Linked DNA regions of Homo sapiens: all the other regions are linked to region 1. The links come from fine-mapping of genetic effects on gene expression. A gene starts in region 1. Each other region holds a variant in brackets. All regions are shown on one strand. Distances are between the middles of the regions. Region 1 holds the start of LARP1 (La ribonucleoprotein 1, translational regulator). Region 2 overlaps GEMIN5 (gem nuclear organelle associated protein 5). Region 3 overlaps CNOT8 (CCR4-NOT transcription complex subunit 8). Region 4 holds the start of LOC124901119 (a long non-coding RNA gene).

The links. PIP is the estimated chance that this variant, and not a neighbour inherited with it, causes the effect.
Region 2: its variant is the best candidate, but not a certain one, in a credible set for the expression of LARP1 in whole blood (TOPMed, PIP 0.87).
Region 3: its variant is the best candidate, but not a certain one, in a credible set for the expression of LARP1 in skeletal muscle (FUSION, PIP 0.53).
Region 4: its variant is the best candidate, but not a certain one, in a credible set for the expression of LARP1 in T cells (TOPMed, PIP 0.69).

Annotation. Positions count from the first base shown.
Region 1 is chr5:154,754,114-154,756,796 of GRCh38, forward strand. LARP1 (La ribonucleoprotein 1, translational regulator) reads left to right here and starts at 1,264. Exons shown (of 19, transcript NM_033551.3): 1 at 1,264-2,080. The coding sequence starts at 1,645. It overlaps LOC112267936 (a long non-coding RNA gene), which reads right to left and starts at 907. Exons shown (of 2, transcript XR_002956231.2): 1 at 1-907. RefSeq lists silencers at 642-791, 1,042-1,381, 1,422-1,831, 1,872-1,951, 2,232-2,341.
Region 2 is chr5:154,906,901-154,909,583 of GRCh38, forward strand. GEMIN5 (gem nuclear organelle associated protein 5) reads right to left here. Exons shown (of 28, transcript NM_015465.5): 16 at 691-918. Among named protein-coding and RNA genes, the nearest start is that of GEMIN5, 30 kb to the right of the region's middle. RefSeq lists an enhancer at 1,437-1,936. The variant C/T (reference allele first, on the strand shown) is at 1,469.
Region 3 is chr5:154,868,445-154,871,127 of GRCh38, forward strand. It overlaps CNOT8 (CCR4-NOT transcription complex subunit 8), which reads left to right. Exons shown (of 7, transcript NM_001301073.2): 4 at 2,217-2,378. Among named protein-coding and RNA genes, the nearest start is that of CNOT8, 11 kb to the left of the region's middle. The variant GT/G (reference allele first, on the strand shown) is at 1,182.
Region 4 is chr5:154,876,243-154,878,925 of GRCh38, forward strand. CNOT8 (CCR4-NOT transcription complex subunit 8) reads left to right here. Exons shown (of 7, transcript NM_001301073.2): 7 at 1-550. LOC124901119 (a long non-coding RNA gene) reads left to right here and starts at 2,517. Exons shown (of 2, transcript XR_007059011.1): 1 at 2,517-2,683. The variant G/A (reference allele first, on the strand shown) is at 1,434.

The DNA.
Region 1 (2,683 bases):
ATCACCCAAACAAAAGTAGCCCATCTAGTCTAACTGATTACCACAGTTTAACTATTGTCTTCATAGATACTAGACAATAATTTATTACTTGTTTATTGTCTCTTTCCCCACCTTAGAATAAATTCCATGAGGATAGGGACTTTGTTAGCCTAGTTTATACCAAACCCGTTTCCTAGAACCCTGCAAGGCCCCCACAGTACGAGGTCAGTAAGTATTGAATCGAATGTACACTGAAGTTTGAAACTGCTGTCATACACTGCTCCTTCATTTTACAATAGAGAAACTGAGGCCCACGAAGCTGGAAGTCACTGCTGCAGAGATGGTAAGGGGGCAGGGCCAGGATAAAATCTCAGATCTCAGAAGTCCCAATCCAGGGACGGTTCAACTCCGCCCAAAGCAATTCTTTAGAAAAAAAACGACATCCACTTGAAAGAAAAGACATTTCCTGCCCATAAATACAAGGTTTCGCGGCGGGGAGAAGGGCCTGGCCTGGGTGAGGGCTTTAGTAATTCCGTTCCCACTTCCTAGGCGCCGGCTGCCCGCAAGGGCTAAAGACTCGCTTTCCAGGCCCGGAGTTGAACCCATCTCCGGGTAGTGTCGAGGCCAGGCCCAGCGGCGGCGAGGCGCGGAGCACAACCCACTGAGGTGCGGACGGCTCACCCAACCAAGGTCACCCGGGCGGGGACCGAAGGGGCCAGGCCCGCCGGGCACAGGGGAGGGGGCGGCGTTGGCGCGTCCTCGGGGCGGATGAGGGTCCTCCCTTCGGCCTCCTAGAAGTCAGGAATGACACTAATGGCTCCTTCCCCTGAATCTGACACCCAGCCTAAAGAGCACGAGCAGGCCCGGCAGGCCGCGTGGCCGGGTCCCATGTGCTCCACCTGAGGCCGCTCTCACGCGCTGGCCCTTTAAGATACCTCCCCTCCTCGCCCAGCCTTCTCTCCTATCCCCGTCAGCGCCCCCACCGACAACTCCCGAATTGCATCAGGCACGTGCTCGCCCCCGTCCGGTCTGAGCGTCCCTACCCCCAGCCCGGGAGGTGCTCTGAGGAATCGGAGACGAGGGGCGGGGCGAGGGGCAGGACCGCGTAGCCGTGCGCGCGCCGTCCCGCCGCCTCCTGCCCGCCCGTCGCCCAGGGCCCGGCCAGCGGCGCGCCCCCGCTGCGCCGTCCCCTCCCCTCGCCCGCCGCGTCGTGAGGCGCGCGCCCGCCCGCCGCCTGCCGCGGATCGCGTGGTCTGCTTGGCTCGCCGCGCCTCTCCCCCGTCCGTCCATATTGCTGCAGCCCCCGAGCCGGGAAGCCCGGGCCGCCCCGGGGGCGGGGGGGAGGGAGGGACGGGACTAGAAGCCTGCCGGGCTCGGGGTGGGGGCGTCTTGCGAGGAACGGGCGGGGGGGGACGCACGCCTAGGAGGCCTGGACTGCAGAGTGGGGGGCCTTCCTCCCCCCCCGCCCCGCTAGTGGGCCTCGGATTTACGGCGGCTGCATCTAACTGGGAGGGGGCCGCACCTCGCGTGAACCCCGACCCTTCTCTGCAGGGACTGGGGCCCAGCGCCCCGGAGGAAGGCGTCGCGGGCGCTCTGCTAGCCAAGTTCGAGGCGGGGGAGGCAGCCTCGGGCGCGCCCGGCTTCTCCGGGGGGGCGGGCGCGCAGATGGCCACTCAGGTGGAGCCGCTGCTGCCTGGGGGCGCCACGCTCTTGCAGGCCGAAGAGCACGGGGGGCTGGTGAGGAAGAAGCCGCCGCCGGCGCCCGAGGGCAAGGGCGAGCCCGGGCCAAACGACGTCCGCGGGGGGGAGCCGGACGGCAGCGCTCGGAGACCCCGGCCGCCCTGCGCCAAGCCGCACAAGGAGGGCACCGGGCAGCAGGAGCGCGAGAGCCCGCGGCCGCTGCAGCTGCCCGGCGCCGAAGGCCCGGCCATCAGCGACGGGGAGGAGGGCGGCGGCGAGCCAGGCGCTGGCGGAGGAGCTGCCGGAGCCGCGGGCGCGGGGCGCCGGGACTTCGTGGAAGCCCCCCCGCCCAAGGTGAACCCGTGGACTAAGAACGCATTGCCGCCGGTCCTGACCACCGTGAACGGACAGTCCCCCCCAGGTGGGTCTCCCTCCTTGCCCTCCTGGGTCCGGGGGCCTCTTCCGGGGACATGGGAGTCCCCTCCCCCAGCACCTCCAGGGCCCCGGGGTCTGCTACCGGTCATGGTGACTCGGGACTTTTTAAAATTGCCTCCTGGTTGATCCTGGTCGCCGCGCCCTCCCCCCCACCGTACACTCAGGGACCTGCCCCTGCCCGAGGGCCCGGCCTCCGGGAGGCTACGGCCACCGCCTGGGCCGCAGCGGTTAGTGGGCAACGGTGTGGTTCGGGCCTACCTCGTCGGCAGAGGGTGGGCGCTGGTTTCAGTGAAACGATCCCCACCGCATGCTGGTGTAAGAGACGGTTTCTGGTTTGAACCTTCCTCTGGAAGCCCCTCTTCCCACCCCGCCCGGCGCTCCCCGTTTTGGTAGCGTTGCGAGCGTCCCCATGTTGTAAATGTTTAATGAGCATATGTCACGGGCAACCCAGTGCCCGGCGCGGAGTACATGCTGGCCGCACGGATGCGGGGATTAAAAGTTAACAAGTTTTGTTCTCGGGGAGATGAAATTGGGCTTTAGAATCGCCATTTGGAGACGGGTTGAGGGGTCAGTTGTGGGGAGAAGAAAC
Region 2 (2,683 bases), 150 kb after region 1:
TTGCTATTTAATCGTTTATTTTACCAGGGACCAGATATTTATCACTTGGTCTGACAAACCATTCTCAACAGGTCCCGAGTAAATGTACAAAATAAAAAGAGTGCTAAAATTTTTACCTAACAGTTTTTTTGTTAGTGATAGAACACTGTTTTGTGAGACATCTGAGAGCCATCACTACAGCTTAACTCACTAGAAAAACCTAATAACCATTCACACATTTTTTTTCTGTGAGAAGACAGAAAGCCGCGTACAAACTCCACGTAAGGGGGTGAGAGCTTGCAAGTTCCCACAGTGGTGGTAGCTTCTAGGTCAGACATTTGTAAGGGACAGTAGTTTCTTTCACCAAATGTGGCTACTGATGTCATACTGTTAAAACTTTTCCCATGTAAGTTCCTATGTACACAACTGACCCAGCTTCGCTTCGTCCCACGGTTTTACCTTGCCCAAGTTGAATAAGAAGTTTTCTCTGTAGAACTTTACTATTTCCACCACAAACATCCACTAGAACCCCTTTAAAACTTCAAAGATGTTTATTTTAGAGACTTGAATAAAGCTTAACAAAAAAAACTAATGCTGTTTCCAAGAGTTGGAAAAATGGGAACAGCGAAGTTTCAAACTGAGTAAGGACCTAGCTTAGTTTCCCAGACACGACCATGAAATCCTAGTGATACACAGGATTCTGCCACATACCCGCTGGAGCAAGGCCACAGGGTAATTCCGGCTCCCGTGCTTGCTCCTCCCCTTCTTGGTCTGACACACCATTCTCAACAGGTCCTGAGTTCTCCTTCATGCTTTCTTCTTCATTTCCATCAATCGATTCCAGCTTTACAGGAGTTCTCAAGGTGGGCTTTTTCTTCTTTTTGGGCTTTGCCTTAGGTTGAGAGAGCCGTTTTTTCTCCAATTCAATACTTTTTTTGCCTACAAGAATCACAATAAAGGACTGACTAAAGTATACATTCTTGGTTAAAAGCACTCTAGGTGGTAAACTCCAATATCTCATTCCTCTTTAATAGCATTTTTACCCATTCCCTTTCTTCTCAATGAACTTTTAGAATTATATTATCACAATATTAACCAAACCCTTTTGAAATTTCATTAAATCATAAACATGATGCCCAATAACACCCAAATATTTTAGTGTGTGTCTTATGAACAGGACATGCTCCGACGTCACCATAGTACAACCATGGAAATCAGGAAATTAACACGATTCACTACTGCCACCTACTCCATACTCTCTATTTAAGTTCTGCCAATTTTACCCAGATGTCCTTTTTTTTTTTTTTTTTTTTTTTTTTGGAGATGGTTTCGCTCTTCTTGCCCCGGCGGGAGTGCAATGGCGAGATCTCAGCTCACCGCAACTTCTGCCTCCCAGGTTCAAGCGATTCTCCTGCTTCAGCCTCCTGAGTAGCTGGGATTACAGGCACGCACAACCACGCCCAGCTAATTTTTGTATTTTCAGTAGAGA[C/T]GGGGTTTCACCATGTTGGTCAGGCTGGTCTCAAACTCCTGACCTCAGGTGATCTGCCTGCCTCGGCCTCCCAAAGTGCTGGGATTACAGGCATGAGCCACCACGCCCGGCCTACCCAGATGTCTTTTATAGCAAAAGGAATCAATCCAGGATCACATGGTACATTTGGTTGCCATGCCTTTCTGGTTCCCTTCAGCCTGGAACAGTTAGTTGCATGGTTTTCCTTTGACTTTCATAATCTGAAACTTCTGAAGATTACAAGACAGTTATTTTGTCCAATTTCCCTCAATTTAGGTCTGCCAGATGTTTTTCATGACTAGATTTAGGGTATGCATCTTTAGCTGGAATGCACATTAGTGCTGCTGTGTTCATGCAGGGCAATCTATGAGGTAGCAGCTAATTTTTATTCGTCCCATTTGGTTTACTTTGATCACCTGATTAAGGGTGTGTCTTGCAAGTTACTCCCTAAAAGGGTATTTCCCCTGTTTAACTACTAAGTATTTGCATCTACTAGTTTTTGTATTCACTGATGTTTCTTGATTAAAAATTGTTACTATGATGACTGCCAAATGGTGAGTTTGTTTTTTCTTTTTTTCTCTTTTTTGAGACAGGTTCTTGCTCTGTTGTCTGGGCTGGAGTGCGGTGGCAGAATCTCCGTTCACGGCAGCCTTACTTGACCTTCCAGGCTCAAGCAATCCTCCTGCCTCAGCCTCTTGAATAGCTGGGACTACAGGTGTGCGACACCATGCCTGGGTAATTTTTGTATTTTTTTTTTTTTTTTTTTTTGTAGAGATGGGGTTTTGTCATGTTGGCCAGGCTGGTATCAAACACCTGGGCTCAAGTGATCAGCTCGCCTCCCAAAGTACTGGGATTACAGGCGTGAGCTACTGTGCCTGGCCCACAAGGTGAACTTCTAATTCCAGGATTTCACTCTACATTCTACCACAAGGAAGAGCTTGGCATCTAGTTGGCATCCTACCACAAGGAAGAGCTTGTGCTTCTCCCCATTTATTTATTATATCGGTCTGGACTCATGAATTCTTCCATTACTGTTACATTTACATTTTTAAGGTTTCTATATTTACATTTTAAGGTTTTTATCCTTTGCTTACTTTAAAATCATCTTTACTGAGGGGTAATATAATAAAATACACCAATTTTTAAATACTTTGGTACAAAGTACCTACCACCACCACAATTACTTTTGTACTAATC
Region 3 (2,683 bases), 110 kb after region 1:
AGTAAAGACGGGGTTTCACCATCTTGGCCAGGCTTGTCTTTAACTCCTGACCCTCGTGATCCACCCACTCTGGTCTCCCAAAGTGCTGGGATTACATACAGTTGTGAGCCACCGCACCCGACCTATTTACTTCATAAGAATATAACTTGAGCTTTGCCAAAGCTTTATGTTCCCTGAGGGCATCTAAAACGCCAGTTCATGGAACAGGCACTTCTTTCTCCCACTCCTTTCCATTTATGCTGTAGTTTTCATGGATTTCTGCTCAGTGTCACAGACGGTGGCCAAGAGGCTATCCAAGCCTTGTTCTGCCAGAAGTAGGTCTGGAGGCTGGTCCTCTTCTGGGCTTCCTACGCCACTTGAGTGCTGCAGCTACTGGGATTCCAGGGCTGTGGCTTCCTTGGCCTGGACCACTTCCTCCCTCTGCAGGTGGTACTGTTAAGTTTCATCCTTAGCTGCTCCTTTGATCTACTTCAGCCTCTGGGTCTTTTGCTCATGGGCCTTGGATACCTTCTCAGTGGCACATTTCTCAGCCTGCAGCAGCTGCTGGATCCCCTGAGACTCACTGGCCATGGTGGCGGTGTCTGAGTCTGAGGCAAGCAGCCTGAATCAGCTGGAAGGCGCGTCAGGTCATCTTAGCTGGCTGCCCACCATCTGTGCCTCAATATTTTTTTGTTGGTTTATTTTTTTTTTTTGAGATAGAGTTTCGCTCCTGTTGCCCAGGCTGGAGTGTGATGGCGCTTTCTCAGCTCACTGCAACCTCTGCCTCCCAGGTTCAAGCGATTCTCCAACCTCAGCATCCTGAGTAGCTGGGATTACAGGCATGTGCCACCACGCCCTGCTAATTTTGTATTTTTAGTAGAGATGGGGTTTCTCCATGTTGGTCAGGCTGGTCTCGAACTCCCGACCTCAGGTGATCCACCCACCTCAGCCTCCCAAAGTGCTGGGATTACAGGCGTGAGCCACCCCACCCGGCCTTGTTGGTTTTTTTTTTTTTTTTTTTAAGTTTATTTATTTTTTTGAGACAGAGTCTTGTTCTGTCTCCTAGGCTGGAGTACAGTGGCGCCATCTTGGCTCACTGCAGCCTTTGCCTCCTGGGTTCAAGTGATTCTCATGCCTCAACTTCCTGAGTAGCTGGGATTCAGGGGCATGCCACCACGTCCGGCTAATTTTTGTTTTTTTGT[GT/G]TTTTTTTTTTTTTTTTGAGAGGGAGTCTCGCTCTGTCATCAGGCTGGAGCGCAGTGGCGCGAGCTTGGCTCACTACAACCTCTGCCTCCCAGATTCAAGTGAGTCTGCTGCCTCAGGCTCCCAAGTAGCTGGGATTACAGGCGTGCGCCACCACGCCCAGCTAATTTTTGTGTTTTTAGTAGAGAGAGGGTTTCACCACGTTGGCCAGGATGGTCTTGATCTCTTGACCTCGTGATCCGCCCACCTTGGCCTCCCAAATTTCTGGGATTACAGGCATGAGCCACCACGCCTGGCCTAATTTTTGTATTTTTGGTAGAGACAGGGTTTCACCATGTTGGCCAGGCTGGTTTGAACTCTGGGCCTCAAGTGATCTGCCTGTCTCAGCCTCCCAAAGTGCTGGTATTACAGGTGTGAGCCACCATGCCCGGCCTACTTATTTTATTTTTGAGACAGGATCTTGCTCTGTCACCTAGACTAGAGTGCAGTGGTGTGAGTCCCCTCCAGTTCTTGGCCTCAAACAATCCTCTCACCTCAGCCTCCGGAGTAGTTAGAACTACAGGTGCATACCACCATGCCTGGCTAATCTTTGTTTGTGTGTGTGTGTGTGTGTTGTTTTTTTTTTGTTTGTTTTGTTTTTTTTGAGACGGAGTCTCACTCTGTCACCCAGGCTGGTCTGGAACTCCTGGTCTGAAGTGATCTTCCTGCCTTGGCCTTCCAGAGTGCTGGGATTACAGGCGTGCACCACTGTGCCTGGTGTTATTGGTTTTTTTTTTTTTTTAAATAATGAGCAAATGTATACCTATTATAATTAGGAAATTTAGTTTATGGAGGAAAATCTCATTTTTCTATCTGTCACAGAAATATGATCTACTTTGCATGCTTGTTTGAATGTTGGAAAGAGTGAATTGATCTATTAAGTTAGGAAAAGCATTTCAAAAATACTTGTACTATAATTATAAGGTGGTGGTAATAGTGTGGCCACTACTTCTGTTTCATTATTCACCAGTTAATAAATAAACACCTTGTTTTTTAGAGAGGACATGTACTCCCAGGATTCCATAGATCTCCTTGCTAACTCAGGACTACAGTTTCAGAAGCATGAAGAGGAAGGGATTGACACACTGCACTTTGCAGAGCTGCTTATGACATCAGGAGTGGTTCTCTGTGACAATGTCAAATGGCTTTCATTTCATAGGTCAGTCCTAGGGAATGTGTATTTCTCTCTCACTTTGGGCTACACTGAAGCAGGGAATTGAATTCTTAGTCATTTTTGCAGTCCTAGTGACTGTTCTGTTCAGCAGCAGCAGCCAGAAGTTGAATTGGTGCTTGTTGCCCATGTTTCAGTTTTTCACAAAACACTGGGGCTCATATACTGGTTTGTTTCACACAGTATTTGGCTCTATCATGTGGCTATCAGTGGGTTTAATTCCAAGTGGGAATATGGTGGGTGTAGAGGGTCACAGTACTTGGTTATCTTTTAAATGGCTGTCTCGGAGTTTC
Region 4 (2,683 bases), 120 kb after region 1:
ACTAGTAAGATCAGATTTTTGGGTCATGTCTGTTGTATTTTCAGTAATGTGATTTCAGATGGTCATCTGGATTCTCCCACTTCTCTACTCCATTATTTCTCTACTTTTCCTTCCAGCAAACCTGAAACGTGAGGGAGATGGATTAATGTGAGTAACAGGAATGTGTCTTTAAAAAGCTAGAGTGGTTACATTTAATCAGGCAGTAAGATAATTTGGGTTCTTGAGTTGTTTTGGAGTAATATCCCACAACTGGGGTAGGAAGCTCAGGACTTTTTTCTTTAAAGCTAGTCATTTCAAAAGCATATTGTATTTTTTTGAATGACTACAGTATGGACAATTTCAAAAACCAAAACCCACTTTGGATTGGTGGAAGTAAAAACTGGTAACTCACTCAAGTGAATGAATGGTCTTGCATTTTAAAAGCTTATGGGAAACTCAATTTGAAATGATTAGAAAATGTCAAGTATTATAAGCTGGTATTTAAGATGCTTGTAAATACTATTTATGTTTTTAATTTTGTAAAATAAAGATTTCTTTTTAACCACTGGCATTAAGGTTTGGTCTTTCATAGCTATGGATTGCTGGCTCTGGAAGATGGTCATTTGCCATCAGTGAAATAAGAGCATCTTGCCTCCATTGTCCCCAAGTTGGCTTACATACAAAATATCACTTGGGGGGTGGGTTCGGGAATAAAAAAAATACATATCACTTGGTAGGAAGCTTTTCACGAGCACCTGTGTAAATGGAATTGTCTCTTCATACTCAAGATTGTTGGGTCTTAATATTATAGAATTAAACCAGTCTAATATTTCCTGGGGTCACTCCACTATATATGGTGGATTAGCTTGTTAATTAGTGGGATTCTTTTAAACAACCTGAACTTCAGATATCCTAGAGTTGGCTCAAGACTTTGTTTCCAGCCATTTCTGTTGACACAAAATATGTGGGGTTTTAAGAAGTCTGGTACAGGGGCAGATATGGAATTGTGACTGGGAAGTTGACAAAACAAGAGATTTATCACTGTAATTTCTGGTGAAACAGCAGTCAGTGGTTCTCAACCAGGGTGCCCTGGCATGCTGGTGACTGTGAGCGCTATGCAGATACCCTTCCAAATTTGAATTAAAGCAGGACATTTAATATTTTCTACAATTAAGGACTTACTTACATGTCAGGAGAAATGCTCAAAGGGTTGAGGAACTCAGTGTTGAGTGTGGGGTTTGGTCATCATTGCATGTGAGAGTTAAGAGCTTAGAGTAGTGCTTTAGCAAGAAAGAGCACAAGTCTTGGAACTGGCAAGAACTTTGTGTGTATGAGTGCATATAGGTCTATGTGAATGCTCATCCTCAAAAAGTGATGGCACTGTAGGGTAACCAAGAGAATCACTTAAGGTGTAATTCTTTCGAGGTTTAGACAGGGTCTCACTCGGTCATCCA[G/A]GCTGGAGTGCAGTGGCATGATCTTAGCTCACTGCACCCTCACCCTCCTGAGTAGCTGGGACTACAGGTGCATGCTACCATGTCCAGCTAATGTTTATATTTTTTTAGTAGAGATGGGGTTTCACCATGTTGGGCAAGCTGGTCTCAAACTCCTGACCTCAAGTGATTTGCCTGCCTTGGCCTCCCAAAGTGCTTACAGTCATGAGCCACCGTGCTGGCTTGTAATTCTTTTTTTTTTTTTTTTTTTTTTTTTTTTTGAGACAGAGTCTTGTTCTGTCGCCCAGGCTGGAGTGCAGTGGCATGATCTTGGCTCACTGCAACCTCCGCCTCCCAGGTTCAAGCAATTCTCCTGCCTCAGCCTCCCAAATAGCTGGTGCCAGAAACAGTCAGTTCCTCTTCAAACTTCTTTGTTTCTTTTAGCGACTAATGTCATTTCACATTGCTAGAAGATACATTCTTGTTCTCTAAACAAGCCTTTCCATCTTTGCCATGCCTAAACATGCCCAAACATGCCTTAACGGACAATCCCTCCCTCCCCTCCTTTCTTTTCTTTACAAGTTACGCATTTAGGCTGGGCACAGTGGCTCACGCTTGTAATCCCAGCACTTTGGGAGGCCAAGGCGGGTGGATCATGAGGTCAGGAGATTGAGACCATCCTGGCTAACACAGTGAAACCCTGTCTCTACTAAAAACACAAAAAATTAGCCGGGCATGGTGGTGGGCACCTGTAGTCCCAGCTACTTGGGAGGCTGAGGCAGGAGAATGGCGTGAACCCAGGAGGTGGAGGTTGCAGTGACCCAAGATCGCGCCACTGCACTCCAGCCTGGGCAACAGAGACAGTCTCAAAAAAAACAAAAAACAAAACAAAAAAAAAACAACAAGTTACGCATTTAAATGTTTCAGTTTACTCTGTTTGGAAAAGTTTTACCACTCCTACCCCTTCTTCCCCATCTACCCTATTTGGAAAAATTTCAAGTTTTAGCCAATCGGGTTAGCTTACATTGTGTGGTCCGACTACAGCCAATGGGGAAAGGACACAGAAACAGAAGCTGCATTAGGGATAAAAACTTTTCTCCTTTGTTCAGTGTGCTCTTGCGATCATGACTGTTGCAGGCAGCACCCTTCTCAGAAGTAAATTTGCCTTGCTGAGAAGTCTTTTGAGAGCTCATTTTCTTTGCAACTCCGAGCTCTTATTTCCAACTATTTGGGGGCTCATCTGGCATCCCATTCTCCTCTAGGGAAGGGTCTCT